4 linked regions of the Homo sapiens genome follow. The protein of the gene in region 1 purifies or fractionates together with the protein of each later gene. This does not show direct contact. Each region holds a gene or a part of one and is shown in the gene's direction. Other genes may lie near its edges.

Region 1 (3,615 bases):
CAGTGAAAACCTGTCTCTATTAAAAATACAAAAAATTAGCCGAGCGCGGTGGTGGGCGCCTGTAGTCCCAGCTACTTGGGAGGCTGAGGCAGGAGAATGACGTGAACCTGGGAGGCGGAGCTTGCAGTGAGCTGAGATGCGCCACTGCACTCCAGCCTGGGCGACAGAGTGAGACTCCATCTCAAAAAAAAAAAAAAAAAAGAAAAGAAGAAACATGGGAGTACAGATACCTGTTTGAGTATCTGCTTTAAATTCTTTTGGGTAGATAGCCAGAAGTGGAATTACTGGATCATATGGTAATTCTTGTTTTTTTTTTTTTGAGATGGAGTTTCGCTCTTGTTGCCCAGGCTGGAATGCAATGGTGCAATCTCAGCTCACTGCAGCCTCCGCCTCCTGGGTTCAAGCAATTTTCCTGTCTCAGCCTCTCGAGTAGCTGGGATTAATTTTTTTTTTTTTTTTTTGAGATGGAGCTTCGCTCTTGTTGCCCAGGCTGGAGTGCGATGGCACGATCTCAGCTCACTGCAACTTCCACCTCCTGGGTTCAAGCGATTCTCCTGCCTTAGCCTCCCCAGTAGCTGGGATTACAGGTGTATGCCACCACGCCCAGCTAATTTTTTATTTTAGTAGAGACAGGGTGTCACCATGTTGGTCAGGCTGGTCTCAAACTCCTGACCTCAGGTGATCCACCCACCTCGGCCTCCCAAAGTGCTGGGATTACAGGCGTGAGCCACCACACTGGGCCTTTTTTTTTTTTTTAAATTCGGGTGATGTCAGGTGAGGAGAAGGGAGATCAGTCTCAAATCTGTCTTTTCGACGAACTAAAATCAGGGGTTTATATAGCAGGGAGAGGAATGTAATTATGTGTAGGGAAAACAGCTGGATCATATGATAATTCTGTTTAGCTTTTTGAGGAAACACCATAGTGTTTTCAGTAGTGGCTGCACCATTTACATTCCCAGCAGCAGTGTGCAAGGCTTCCAGTTTCTCCACATCCTCCCCAGCACTTATTATTTTATTTTCTTTCTTTCTTTTTTTTTTTTTAAAGGAGTCAGGAGTCTCACTGTGTTGCCCCAGGCCGGTCTTGAACTCCTGGGTTCAAGTGATCCTCCTGCCTTGGCCTCCAAAAATGCTAGGATTACAAGTGTGAGCCACCAAGCCCAGCCATCTTCTTTTTTCGTTTTTTTAATTATAACCTTCCTAATGGGTGTGAAGTGGTGGTATCCCATTGTGGTTTTGATTTGCATTTCCCCAGTGATGAGTGATGTTGAACATCCTTTCATATGCTTGTTTGCCACTTGTATATATATTTTCTTTGAAGAAGTATCCAGATTCCTTTTGCCCATATTTTTAATTGGGCTCTTTTTCTTGTTATTGAGTTGTCATTGAATTGTTCATATATTCTGGATATTAAATCATTATTAGAGATGAGATTAGTGATATTTTTTCCCATTCTCTGGATTATCTTTTCATTCTCTTAGTAGTGTCATTTTTTTAAAAATTAATTTTTTGTAGAGATGGGGGTCTCACTGTGTTTCCCAAGCTGATCTCAAACACCTGGCCTCAGGCAGTCCTCCTGCTTTGGCCTCCCAAAGTGTTGGGATTACAGGTGTGAACCACCGCACCTGGTGGATAGTCTCATTTGCTGCGCAAAGAGTTTAAAATTTGATGAAGTTCAATTTATCTGTTTTTGATTTTGTTGCATGTATTTTTAGTGTCATATTTAATCCCTATAGTTCTTGAGTGATTTTTTTTATTAAGGTGAATGCCTGGGGACAGGACAGGTAAGGGTCTAACCTTTGAGTTGATTTTCCAGCCTGTGGCCCTTTCTGCTGGACCTTTTAAGTGGGGAGTCTGGTGAGGAAGTATGACTGCCTGCTGTGGCCAGATAAAACCCCTTGAGTCTCCTCCTTCAGAGAGGAAGCGGCTTCACATTTTTAGTTCAGGTTTCTGATGTGACAACAGACACCAGGATTGAGCACCTTCTCTGCCTGCACTTGGAGAGCACCTGTCTGCCCCATGAGGATGGCATCTTGCTGGTTTCCTAGCACTCAGTGGCAGGTCCTTCATTGAGTTCTTACTGTGGGCATGGTTTTGCTGGAGGCCTTAGGAATTTCAGGCATGGAGTTGGTTTTCCTCACAGTTTTATCTTTCTTCCTAACTCTCACCAGACTATAAACTCATAATTTAGTGATATTAAGACAATTCAGGGTCCTGAGGTTGTGGCAGATGGAAAGAGACAAGATTAGGGGTTGCAATGTTTCCGTGTATTATTCTGCGCAAAACTCTCTTGTAGTCATGCAGCTGTAGTTTTACAAAGACGTCCTGGTCAGCCCACCTGATGCCACTTATTAGTGAGAGGAGCAAGGCAAGAGGCTGAGGAGAGCTGGGATGTCCAAGGCTGAGGAGGGGAAGTAATGTCTCCTGGATTCCAGGATTCCAGCCCATGCAAGACCCCCTGGGGGAAGGGGATTCTGTAGAGGACACAGCACTGCCTGAAGCAGCATCTTGTAGGTCAGCCAGTTCCCGTTGACACGCAGAAAGACAGTACTGCTGGGGTTCATTTTCTGGGAAAGCCAGGCAGAGCCTGAGGAAGCTTCATGGGAAGGCAGCATGGAACTTGAGCTGAGCCACGGAGGATGGGGAAGTGGGAGAAGGTCATCGAGGTAGCTGGAAAGGAGAGTGTTCCCAGGGAGCATTTTAGAGGTGGGAACATTCAGGTGCATAGAGGTGAGAGTGGAGATGCTCCAGGGAGTTTGACAGCAAGCACTTGGCAGTGATACAGGGGCAGGGGTACAGTCTGAAAGTGCTGGACTGGGGTACTCTGGTAGCCAAGTTTTGCAAGAGCCAGGGTTTCCAGCAGGGATGGTAGCCAGCCTGGGCACACTTTTCTGTATTGTATTTGAACCTCATTTCCTGATGCTCATCCAGAAGTTCCTGGCTGGGTGAGTAGGTGAACAGTTCAAGGCTGTGTGGATGAAACTCTGGCATCTCTTTACAGTGCTGTCCGGCAGGGCAGTGTGAGGCCACTCTGTCCTCCTTTGACCTCTTTCTTCTTCAGCAGCCAAATGGAGGCTCTCTAAAGGTGATGATTAACTTGGCATAAACATGCCAAGCTTTCCTGAGCGATTGCCCTGAATTGGGCTGTCTCTTGCTGCTCTGAGACAGGGAGACTGGCTGTCTGGCTGACCAGCCCTTGGGGCTGAGGTCTGGCTGTCAAGTTGCAGGTTCCAGGCAACCAGCAATTCCTGGTTGTCACCTGGCTCTAGAGATTAGAGCAGCAGTGTTGCTCACTAGAACTTTGTGCAGTGATAGTGTTCTTTAATCTGCACTGTCTAGTACTGTAGCCATGGGCCACCTGTGACTTTCAAGCCCTTGAAATGTGGCTACCGGCCAGGCACAGTGGCTCATGCCTGTTATCCAGGGGTGTCCAATCTTCTGGCTTCCCTGGGCCACAATGGAAGAAGAATTGTCTTGGGCCACACATAATATGCAGTAACACTAATGATAGCTGATGAGCTTTAAAAAAAAAATCACAAAAAATATCTCATAATGTTTTAGGAAAGTTTACGAATTTGTGTTGGGCTGCATTTGAAGTGGTCCTGGGCCTTGGTCTGC
Region 2 (4,358 bases), on another chromosome or scaffold:
TGTTCTCAAGTGAACCTCCCGCCTCAGCCTCCCAAAGTGCTGGGATTACAGGCATGAGCCACTGTGCCTGGCCTGTAGTTCTTCTTTAATCTTATGTTTTATTAATTTTGAATTATTTAGATGCCCTTGATGAGTCTTCCTTTCCCCGCAGTCGTCAGGAACTCTCTCTTGTTTCCATTTCCTTACACACTTGTTTCCTACCACTTGGCCTGAACCCTTCAAAAAAGTCAATATTACAAAAACTAAAACCAAATAGGTAGGAGGGCTTTTGTAGATTAAAATAGAGACAGAACCAAATGCAAGTGTGAAACTTGATTGCATCTGAATCAAAACAAGCCCCAAATATAAAATCAGTTTGTAGGGAAATATGGAGAACTTTAAATATGGATGTATATTAGGTAATATTATTGAATAATTAATGTTAATTTTCTTAGCTGTGTTAATAGTATTACGGTTATGTAGGAGGATATCCTAATCTTAGGAGATAAATGGAGATGTATTCCTGTTGTCCGCACTTTATTTTATTTTATTTTTTGACACGGAGTCTCGCTCTGTCGCCCAGGCTGGAGTGAAGTGGCGCGATCTCGGCTCACTGCAACTTCCTCCTCCTGGGTTCAAGCGATTCCCCTGCCTCAGCCTCCCGAGTAACTGGGACTGCAGGTGCGTGCCACCACGCCCGGCTAATTTTTTGTATTTTTAGTAGAGAGGGGGTTTCACCGTGTTAGCCAGGATGGTCTGGATCTCCCAAAGTGCTGGGATTACAGGCGTGAGCCACTGCGCCCGGCCTGTACTTTACTTTCAAATGATTGAGTGAGAATGGAAGGGCTTGGGCACTTTGAGAGAAAGAGAACACAAGCAAATTTGCCAACATGCTGAGACTTACTGAATCAAGGTAATAGCCATTATTCTTTTAACTTTTTTTTTTTTAATTTGAGACGGAGTTTCGCTCTTGTTGTCCAGGCTGGAGTGCAATGGCGCGATCTTGACTCACTGCAACCCCCGCCTCCCTGGTTGAAGCAATTCTCCACCATGCCCGGCTAATTTTTGTATTTTTAGAAGAGACGGGGTTTCACCATGTTGCCCAGGCTGGTCTTGAACGCCCGACCTCAAGTGATCCGCCCGCCTCAGCCTTCCAAAGTGCTGGGATTATAGGCGTGAGCGTCCACGCCCGGCCTCTTAACTTTTTGATAGGTTAAAAACTTACAAAAAACGTGGATAGAGGGGGTCTGTCTTGCCCACTAGACCGATATGGTTAGGTTAGGTTAGGTTAGGTTAGGTTAGGTTAGAACCCGACATTGTGCTCTGTACTTCCTAGCCATTCATTCGCTTCAAGTGCTCTGAAATTTAATTTAAAAAATCATAGTTGGAATCCTTTCGGTCACTTTCTCTTTCTCCCTTCGTTCCTCCCTTTCCCTCTTGATTCTTCCTTGAGGCGCAAACACCTGAGAGAGGCTTCTGTCCCTCGGCGGTCTCCGTAAGTAAGTGAACCGTTATTGGCTGGAGGGCGCTGACGTCTGATTGTTGCGCGGTCGCATTTTTCCGGGGAGCGCGGATTCGCATTCCCAATTTTAGGTGGCAGTCGCAACCCATACTATTCGGACAGATGGCACAGAAACCGCTGCGCCTGTGAGTGACCGTGAATGGAAGCCTCTCTCCCTGTGTCTCTTTCGTGTGTGTAGGTGACGACACGGGCGGGAGTCTTTCCCATGACGGGAAGGGAGAAGGAAAAGGCGGAGAGACACGGGGCTGCTGGGGAGCTTAGGTGATGTCTTTGCCTGGCCGGGGCTGACCTCTTTTCCTGGCCCTTTTCGCTTCTGAGGGGGTTTCTCTTGGCGACGCTCGTTCGGAGAGGCGGAAGCTCCCAGAGTTAGGCCTCCTCCATCTTAGGGGGCAGTCCTGGCCTCTGACACATCCTTTCCCCTTCGTTTCTCCTGACCCCATTTATTTACTCGCCAAATAGCCATTGGGCCCACTGATGGGCCCTGGGCAGTGGTGGACAGAGTAGATAGGGACCCTTCCCTGGGGCATTTTTTTTTTTTTTTTTTTTTTGCGAGGAGGAGGGGTGGGGGTGGTGGTGAAGAGAGGGCTTCATGCAGCAAGTATTTATTGAAGAACTGCAGTGTGCCGGACGCTGTGCTAGGTGTTGCAACAGATGGAGTTCCTGCTTTAATGGAGCGTAGAGTCTAGAGGAACAGGTACTAAAGAATCCAGATAATGGGCCGGGCGCGGTGGCTGAGGCAGGAGAATCGCTTGAACCCGGGAGGCGGAGGTTGCTGTGAGCCGAGATCGCGCCACTGCACTCCAGCCTGGGCGACAGAACGAGACTCTCAAAACAAAACAAAACAAAACAAAACAAACAAAAAACAATACAAATAATGGCCGGGCGCGGTGGCTCACGCCTGTAATCCTAGCACTTTGGGAGGCTGAGGCGGGCGGATCACTTGCGGTCAGGAGTTCGAGACCAGCCTGGCCAACGTGGTGACACCCCGTCTCTACTAATACAAAAAAAAAAAATTAGCCAGGCGTGGTGGCGCGTGCCTGTAATCCCAGCTACTTGGGAGGCTGAGGCAGGAGAATCGCTTGAACCCGGAGGCGGAGGTTGCACAGTGAGCCGACACTGCACCTCTGCACTCCAGCCTAGGTAACAGAGTGAGACTCCGTCTAAAAAAAAAGGAATTCAGATAAATGTAAAGTTACCATAGTGATAGGGCCAGGCGCAGTGGCTCACGCCTATAATCCCAGCGACTCCGGAGGCCAAGGCAAGAGAATCACTTGAGTCCAGGAATTCAAGACCAGCCTGGGCAATATAGCAAGGCCCCGTTTCTACAAAAAATACAGAAAAAAAAAAAAATTAGCCGGGCGTGGTGGTCCCAGCTAATTGGGAGGCTGAAGCAGGTGGACCACCTGAGCCTGGGGAGGTCGATGCTGCAGTGAGCTGTGATCGTGCTGCTGATCTCCAGGCTGGGTGACAGATTGAAACCCTGTCTCAAAAAAAAAAAAAAAAAAATTGCAATAGTGGTAACTTTTGGGAAGAAAATATTCGTGAATCTGGGAGAGTGCATAAGAGGGGTATTTGGCTTAATGATAGGAGTCAAGAAGGCTTCCCGAGAATGTTAGGATTGAGCCTTGGGAAATAAGAGTAATCCATTGCTTAACAGCAGGGTTATGTTCTGAGAAATGAGTTGGTAGGCGATTTCGTCATTGTGCGAACATCTTTGAGTGTACTTCCAGAGACCTAGATGGTATGGCTTCCTGTACACCTAGGCTAAATGGTATAGCTGTACGTCAAGTTACTGTACTGAATACTGTAGGCAATTGTAACACAATGGTAAGCATTTTTGTATTTAAATATAGAAAGGGTACAGTGAAAACACCTGGCCGGGTGTGGTGGCTTATGCCTGTAATCCCAACACTTTGGGAGGCCGAGGTGGGTGGATCACCTGAGGTCAGAAGTTCAAGACCAGCCTGGCCAACATGGTGAAACCCTGTGTCTACTAAACATACAAAAATTAGCCGGGTGTGGTAGCGGGCGCCTGTAATCCCAGCTACTCAAGAGGTTGAGGCAGGAGAATGGCTTGAGCCTGGGAGGCAGAGGTTGCAGTGAGCCGAGATCGCACCACTGCACTCCAGCCTGGGCGACAGAGCGAGACTGTCTCAAAAAAAAAAAAAAAGAAAAAGAAAAAAAGAAAATACTGTATACAGGAAAAAAAAAAAGGGCACAACCTGTGTAGGACACTTATCATGAATGGAGTTTGCAGAACTGAAAGTTTCTCTGAGTGAGTTAGTAAGAGGTGAGTGAATGTATTACTTTACAGTATTGTAGACTTTATGAATACTGTACACTTCACCTATATTAAATTTATTAAAATATTATTTTCAACAGTAAACCTTAGTTTACTGTAACTTTTACTTTATAAACTTTAAGTTTTTTTACACTTTTTGACTCTTGTTATAACACAGCTAAGACATAAAACACATTGTACAGCTGTACAAAAATATTTTCTTTATATCCTTATTCTACAAGCTTTTTTCTATTACTTTTTTTTTCTTTTTACCTTTTAAACTTTTTTTTTTTTTGGAGACAGGGTCTCACTGTCGCCCAGGCTGGAGTGCAATTGTGCAATCACGGCTCACTGCAACCTCAACCTCCTGGGCTCAAGTGATTCTCCCACTTCAGCCTCCTGAGTAGCTGGGACTACAGGCGGAAGCTACCACACCTGGCTAATTTCTGTATTTTTTGTAGAGAGGGGGTTTTGCTATGTTACCCAGGCTGGTCTTGAACTCCTGGGCTCAAGTTACCCTCCTGCCTCAGCCTCCCAAAGTGCTGGGATTACAGACGTGAGCCACTGTGCCTGGCT
Region 3 (3,615 bases), on another chromosome or scaffold:
TCTAAGACATAATGATCATACTTATGAATGCAGAAAAAATTAAATACTGTTGATAGAAAAATCATGCTTTGGGGACAAATAATAGTAATTTGTAAATTATTTCTACATTGGCAAGTGTCATATTGTTGGCTTCTAGTATAATAAAGTGATACATTCAAGCATGCCAAAGAAGAAAAGTTGATTTACAAAGAACCACGTGGAGAAATGGTTCTTTCTGATAGTTCACATCTCATGAAGGTATGTAAGATTGAAACCGTTTCTGCGTGTCATTAAGTTCTCATTTGCCCTTTAGTGTAAAGAGTGAGGTTGCAGAGCAGTCAGATGTGTGCAAGGTTGTTAACATCTGTTTTGAGAGATGGGGCAAAAAAGGGCCAGTTCCCATCTTTAGATCTTATGCCGTTGAACAGCACATGGGGGAAGAGAGAAGAATGATCTTTACAACATAGCCTTAGTCGAGAACATATCTGTTTTCTAACTCCCTCTCTCTGGGTTGTTCTGTAGCACAATAAGGACTCTAAATGGTGTCAGGAACATTTCCTGAATTACAAGGGTCTTGTCAGAGCTGCGACTGTAAGAGAACAATTGAAAAAGCTTCTTGTCAAGTTTCAAGTGCCCAGGAAGTCTAGTGAAGGTGAGAAGAAACCGTCCCAGCTGGTGACCTCCCTTGCTTCATTCTGTTGAGTTGTCTTCCTAAAGTTCTCATGCTGGGCTGGTGCGAGGCAGTGTGGCGTGCTCTGTACCAACACTGGGTTTTATATTTTGAGTTGCCTGCATCTGTGAAAAGCTGAAGGTCAAGTTGCGTATTTTTTCCAAGGAGGTCTATTTTTCTTTCTGATGGGCATTCTTACTAAAGGAATTTCATAGCCCATGACAATACTTAAGAATCACTAACAGTCACATCAGTGCACATCATGTCATTGATTTTCCCATGTAGGCTTTGCAAGAAAAATTACTTTTTGATCAGTGATATTAGTAGCTATTACATAAAAATTAAATTTTATATTCAAAGACAAGTATTATTAAAGCAAGTGCTGGATATTTAGCCTAGGCAGCCACTAAAGGTAAGACAGAAAAGTACTATGTAAGACGTAGTCTCTGGCCTCTAGCAGTGACAGTGACTACTATTAATCAGGGACACAGTAGGTTACGCTGTGGCAGGGGTTCTCCAAATATTCTCTTGCTCAATCTCGCACTCTGTGAGGTGTCGGTAATGTTATCCTCATTTTACAATTAGTCGTAAGATCCTAGGGAGAAGGTAGATTAAATTCAGGACCACGCAACTGGTAAGGAGGAGAGCCAGATCTGTATGTGGCTCAGAAGTCTACGCTTTTAAGGAAGTGACACACCCGCCTCAGCAGTCAGCCTGAAAGCCTAGTGTGCCAGGTACTCAGCCACATCCTCAGCACCATTAGTACTTGGTAACATTTCCTGAGTGCTTATAAGTGGCTAGACAGTGCACTGAGTGTTCCATGTGTTTATTAATTTAATGCTCACAACAACGCTGTGAAACGTGTGCTCTTTTCCCCATCTTATAGGTGAGAAAAGCGTGGCTAAGAGGTAAAATGTAACTTGCTGAAGTTACACAGTGAGGGTATGATGGAGTCAGAACCTGAGCCCAGGCGGTTCCATTTAAGTCTTCTTTTGTCTTTATACTAAGAGCAAGTGATTAAACAATGACGGAGTCTTGGCTTTTACTCTAAGGGAACAGTGTAATGAAGGGAGAGATTCATATGGATAGACAAAGTACTAAGATTATCAGTCCTCTTCGAAGTTAAAGTAGTAGATACTTTAGTAATCATAGAAGACGTGCTGGCAGATGTGGAAGGAATGCCGGGAAGAAGGAATCCAGAGAGGGCTAGCTTGGGAAGTCTTTCAGCTTCCTTGAGGTGTGGTGGGAGTCCGGTCAAGCTTTGGGGTCTGGTTGAATTAGAAAATGGTGGCAAAGAGCACTCTAGGGAAGGAGGACTGGAGACAAGTGCTTGGAGTGAGGAGTATATGAGACGCTCAGAGAATATTTGATGGGTGAATACACTCACGAGAGAGGGAAGAGTTGAAACCTGGGCCATTGAGCCATGTTGGAGTCATTGATAGAAACAGGATGCTTACAAGGAGCACCTAGTTGGAGAGCAGCTCGTCAAACGCCTGTCACCCAGCAGGTAGATGACAGCCTTACTTCAGCAATTGGTGTTCTTCACCTGTGTTTCATTATCAGACCCCTGCCCAGGAGAAAAGTTAAATTTAAATTCTACCCAGCCTGAGAAATTAAATACTAAGGAATAAGATTTTGTAGGGTAGGATTGAGCTTTGGAGGGCTACCGGCCATTGTAGTGTCTAAGATGCTCCCCTCCCCCTGCCTCCAAGAACCAGTTTCCACCCCTTTGGAAGTGATATCACCCCTGTTTAGAGTGCATATTTTACATGGAAATTTCTTATGGACAATAGGAGAGAAGAGACTGGATATCGGATTAGATCATATTTAGACATGTAGATTTGAGATTTTATCAGCTCAGTGCTTAGGAAAAATACAGAAAATCATGGAGACTAAATAAATTACATGCAAATTTAAAACATCTAAGGGTTAAAAAATAGAAAGCAATTAGTGAAAGATACTTTCAGCAGTCATGAGATAAATGATAAAGATTAAAAACTTTATTATAGAATGATTTTATTTAATATATTTAGGAAAAAACAGTTTTCAGGTTGATAAATGGGCTAAGGATTAGAACAAAAAATTCACAAAAGAAGAAATATGCCGATAGTAATCAAATAAATGTAATATAAAAGAAGGTAACAGAAGGTAACACTTTTTGCCAAAACATTGCTAGTAAGAATGCAGTGAAACTGCCATTTTTATATATTGTTGATGGCTTTGGAAATAGTACCACCTTTATGGAACTTACTTACCAACATGCTTTATTCCATTGGATCTAAGATACCATCATGTGTAAGAAACATCGTTATTTTATGTGTCACCAAAGAAAAAAAATGCTGCCAGTTATCATTGTAAAATGCTGTCCTAATTTCAGTGAATTAAAGTTAGAAAAAGAGCGAGTCTTAAAATTGATGAGATGTGATATGTCATTAACCATAAAAATAACATTAGCCTTTTGCACAACAATTTGGAATGTATCCTATGGACATCATCTAATAGTGGGGAAGCTTTATTCATGGAAGATGTTAGCTGTAGCAATAGAAACACCAGTTAAAATGGAACATTTGAAAAATTTGAAGAATTACTTCAATTTTCAAACACTAGCTCATAACCACAGAAGTAACGTTGTATACTATCTCCAGTTTGTGTTTTATAGAAAGAACATTGTTGCCATATGACACTCTTTTACAAAGGAGTTCTGAGGTCACTGACCAGCCTGCAGAGCAGCACTCTTAGGTTCTGGTGCCCAGCCATGGTCCAGTCATCTGTGGCTTAGGGGAGGTTGGAGGGGTCCCAGGTTCAAGGAGCAGACCAGCATTGTTGTCAGCAGCAGTTGTGGGGAGTGGGACCTCCTTAGATGGTGCTGGGGCAGGCATCCAGCATTGGGAAGGGTAGGGCTGGAGCCATTTCAGGAGAGGGTTTCCAGGTGTCTTGAAGCAGCCTGGGGTGGTGCTGGGAGTGGA
Region 4 (3,184 bases), on another chromosome or scaffold:
AGCTGGTGCCTCAGTGTGGGGAGGTGGTCAGGAGCTGCTGCGGGCTTTCAGGTAGGTGACTGGAATGACGGAGCCTGCTGCCCTGTGCAGCGGGGCTGGAGCTGGGGGAGACTGGCCACTGAGAGGTAGAGCACGTAATGGGGGCATGAGACAGGCCTGGTGCAGCTGAAGGGGAAGCAAAGGGAGCTGGCGCTGTGGGCACTCCAGGGCCACACCAGGAGGTTCTCCTGTGATAGAGACAGGCCATGAGTCTACAGATGTCTTCATCCCTGGAGATGTTTCCAGCAGCCACTCTGTTCTGCCTGCTCCTACTGTGGGGCCTGTGGAGTCTGGTTCCACAATGATGATGCTTTTGTTTTCCTAAGAGATGAGGCCGCTTTCCTGCTGTGGGGAAAATGCAGGGAGGCGCCTGTTGCCTGGGCTGGGCAGGAGGCAGGATCAGGTCTCTGGAAGGAAGGAGTCTGTTTTCTCCCCCGTCCTCGCTGCTGCTGATGGTGGGGCTGGTCTCCCTGGGAGAATGTAGCAAGTCACTTAACTTTGTTGAAAGCTTTCTGTCTCCTTGTTGGGAAAATAATGAGGTTGGATTAAATTCCTGGTTTTCAAACTTGCTTTGTTGTTGTTGTTTTTAAGCAGCAAAATCCCCTTTTTAAATGACATTTTTATGGGGATACTAGTTTACAAAATAAATTGGGAACTCTCCTGATTGGCCCTGGGTGGGAGAGGTGAAGAGACTAGAACCCTCTGCAGCCGTCCTGCGCTCCTGCAGCAATAGCAGGCAACTCTGAGAAACAGGGTTGAGAACCAAGAGGTTAGATGACCTTTGTCTCTGGGCACTCTGTGGGTTCCGAATGGAATGACAGGCCTCAGAAGGCCCTGGAGTCCTTGCTCCCCAGGCTGTGGGGGGCGGGTCACCAGCTTTGGCATTGCCCAGGAGCCCCTGATTCCACATCACATTTTAACTTGAATCCCTGGGCGATTCATCGAAGGCTGGAAGGCCTTCCCACCGCGTGCAGAAGCTCTCCTACCCGGTTCCTACCTGGTTCCTAGAAGAGAATCCATGCACCTCACACCCGCGACCTCTGCAGTGGGAGTGCTGGGTTGGCGAGCAGCCCATCCTGATGCCGGATGGTGGATGGCGGGGCTGGCGAGGCACCTCCTTCCTGCCCCACGGGCATCTCACTTCCACTGCCTGCCTCAGAAGCAGCACTTCCACCACCCCTCTGCCTCTGTGGCACCTCTGCCATTTGGCTGGGTGAGGAGAGGTAGAAAGAGGGCCCCCTGTGCTTTGCTTTGGTTTTTTGGCTTTGCCTGGAAATGCGGAGAATCCTGCAGAGCGCAGACTGAGAGGCTGTGAAATCTCAGTCCCTAACTTGGGATGGGACTTTGCTGTTTTCCTAAAGGAACTGGCCCAAATAAGGAAGGAGGAAAAAGAGAAGAAAAGACGCCGCCTCGAGAACATCAGGTTTCTGAAAGGGATGGGCTACTCCACGCACGCGGCCCAGCAGGTACTCCACGCAGCCAGCGGGAACTTGGATGAGGCCCTGAAGGTAGCAGCTCCCTCGGGGCCTCTGGCCTTGTCCCTGAGCAGTGGGTCCTGCCCAGAGCTCCCTCCATGGCTCTCCAGCATCCTCCCGGGCTCACTCCTATGGGCTGCCCCGTCATCCGGATCTGAAGGGCAGGTTTCTCCTGGGCTCCAGCCCAGACACAGGCTGCGTGAGGCCACGTGAGGCCCCATGCTCAGTGCTTGGCCCAGGCCTGGCTCCAAAACGTGGTGCCTGTCCACACCAGCACAGTCCACAGGCCAGGACTTTGTGTAGGGTTTCTGTGTGCAGCAGAGTTTAGTGAAACAGGCAGTTTCCACGGCAGAAAAAAGAGAATGGGAATTCAACTTGTAGTATAATTGTTTGGCATTAAAATTTTAAATGTAAGTATCTAGTTTTATTTATTTAGTCCATCGTACATGTTGGCAAAGGGAGAGCTTTTCAAAGAACCCCTCAGGAGTGACAGCAGGTTGGGATCCAGACAGCAGTGACTTTACCTGGGCCACTTCCTTCCCTGTGTTGGAGAAGCATATCGAATCCTCAGTAGGGCAGGTGCTGCGCTGCGTCTCAGCAGCTTGGCATGGAACCACCCTCTGCCCTCTCGGCCCCGCAGGTCAGTGAGAGACAAACTCAGAGCACACGTGGTGAGGGGTCCCGAGGGGGTGCACAGGAGGCAGGGGGCTGGCTGTGTGGAGGCAGCAGTCCAGACAGATGCTGGGGCAGCGCGGCGGGCAGGAAGCAGAGTGGTAGGAGCTGGCTTAGGTTGTGCACGTGCTGGGGGCGGGGCTGGGGGGACAGAGATGGGGTTGGAGGGGGTGGGGTGCAGGGCAGGTGTCCTCGTTTGCCCTGCTGAGGCGGGTGTGGGTGCAGCAGGCACGGGGAGTCCACCCTGCCTTTGCCTCTTATCCCTGCCCTGTTCCCCGGAAGGCTCCACAAGTCAGTACTTTTGTAACTATGTACATGTATATTTAACATATACGTTAAATTTTAAATTTTTATTTGAATATCATCTAGTTCGTTTTTTTGTGTGTTGGAGAAATATTAAGAGGTGGGAAATTCTGAATATTCGAAGGGACTGATGGGTCTCAAAATAGATGTGAATTATACGAGTGGCACAAAAATACTTCCAGTCAAAATGGAAGTACTGAGTGTTGGAAAGGAAAGTCTCCACAGGGTCTTTGAAGATTAAGTATTGTGTGATGAAGAAATCAAGGGTCAAAATAACCCTACTACCTGCCTGACATTTTAAGTCTAGAGGGCATGACGCTTTCAAAGATCAATCAGGCAGCCCTGAGCTGCTTGAGACCTTTCTGTCTGTAGCTCTGACAAAACCTGTTTTCTTGGATGCTGCTTCCACCTGCTCTCCATCCCTTCCTGCTCTAACAGAAGGGATCTTTTCCCTGACTAGTCTTGCTCCTCCTTCAAACCCCAGCTGTCCTGGTCTCTGGCTGGAAGCCTTCTGTGAACACCAGCCTGAGTGGGAGCCCCTTTCTCTGCCTCATAGCAGCAGAGGACGGCGGGGTCTGCCTAGCACATGGCAGGGTGCAGCGCCTGTCTGAATGTGTGAAGAGTTCTTAGTGATGGGTAAAGGGTGTTCCTGTGTGTTTTAGATTCTGCTCAGCAATCCTCAGATGTGGTGGTTA

The links.
Region 2: the proteins of CCDC12 (region 1) and CWF19L1 purify together in Homo sapiens (affinity purification with mass spectrometry; one large-scale study listed by BioGRID and IntAct). This does not show direct contact.
Region 3: the proteins of CCDC12 (region 1) and DHX35 purify together in Homo sapiens (affinity purification with mass spectrometry; one large-scale study listed by BioGRID and IntAct). This does not show direct contact.
Region 4: the proteins of CCDC12 (region 1) and NUB1 purify together in Homo sapiens (affinity purification with mass spectrometry; one large-scale study listed by BioGRID and IntAct). This does not show direct contact.

What each region holds. Positions count from the first base shown.
Region 1 is NC_000003.12:46,970,200-46,973,814, reverse strand, and holds part of CCDC12 (coiled-coil domain-containing protein 12), read left to right. Parts: intron 1-3,615.
Region 2 is NC_000010.11:100,264,839-100,269,196, reverse strand, and holds the start of CWF19L1 (CWF19-like protein 1), read left to right. Parts: upstream 1-1,558; 5' UTR 1,559-1,603; coding exon 1,604-1,626; exon of another isoform or gene 1,627-1,671; intron 1,672-4,358.
Region 3 is NC_000020.11:39,024,729-39,028,343, forward strand, and holds part of DHX35 (probable ATP-dependent RNA helicase DHX35), read left to right. Parts: intron 1-501; coding exon 502-631; intron 632-3,615. UniProt on the Homo sapiens protein: May be involved in pre-mRNA splicing.
Region 4 is NC_000007.14:151,372,697-151,375,880, forward strand, and holds part of NUB1 (NEDD8 ultimate buster 1), read left to right. Parts: exon of another isoform or gene 1-1,400; coding exon 1,401-1,547; exon of another isoform or gene 1,548-3,151; coding exon 3,152-3,184. UniProt on the Homo sapiens protein: Specific down-regulator of the NEDD8 conjugation system. Recruits NEDD8, UBD, and their conjugates to the proteasome for degradation. Isoform 1 promotes the degradation of NEDD8 more efficiently than isoform 2.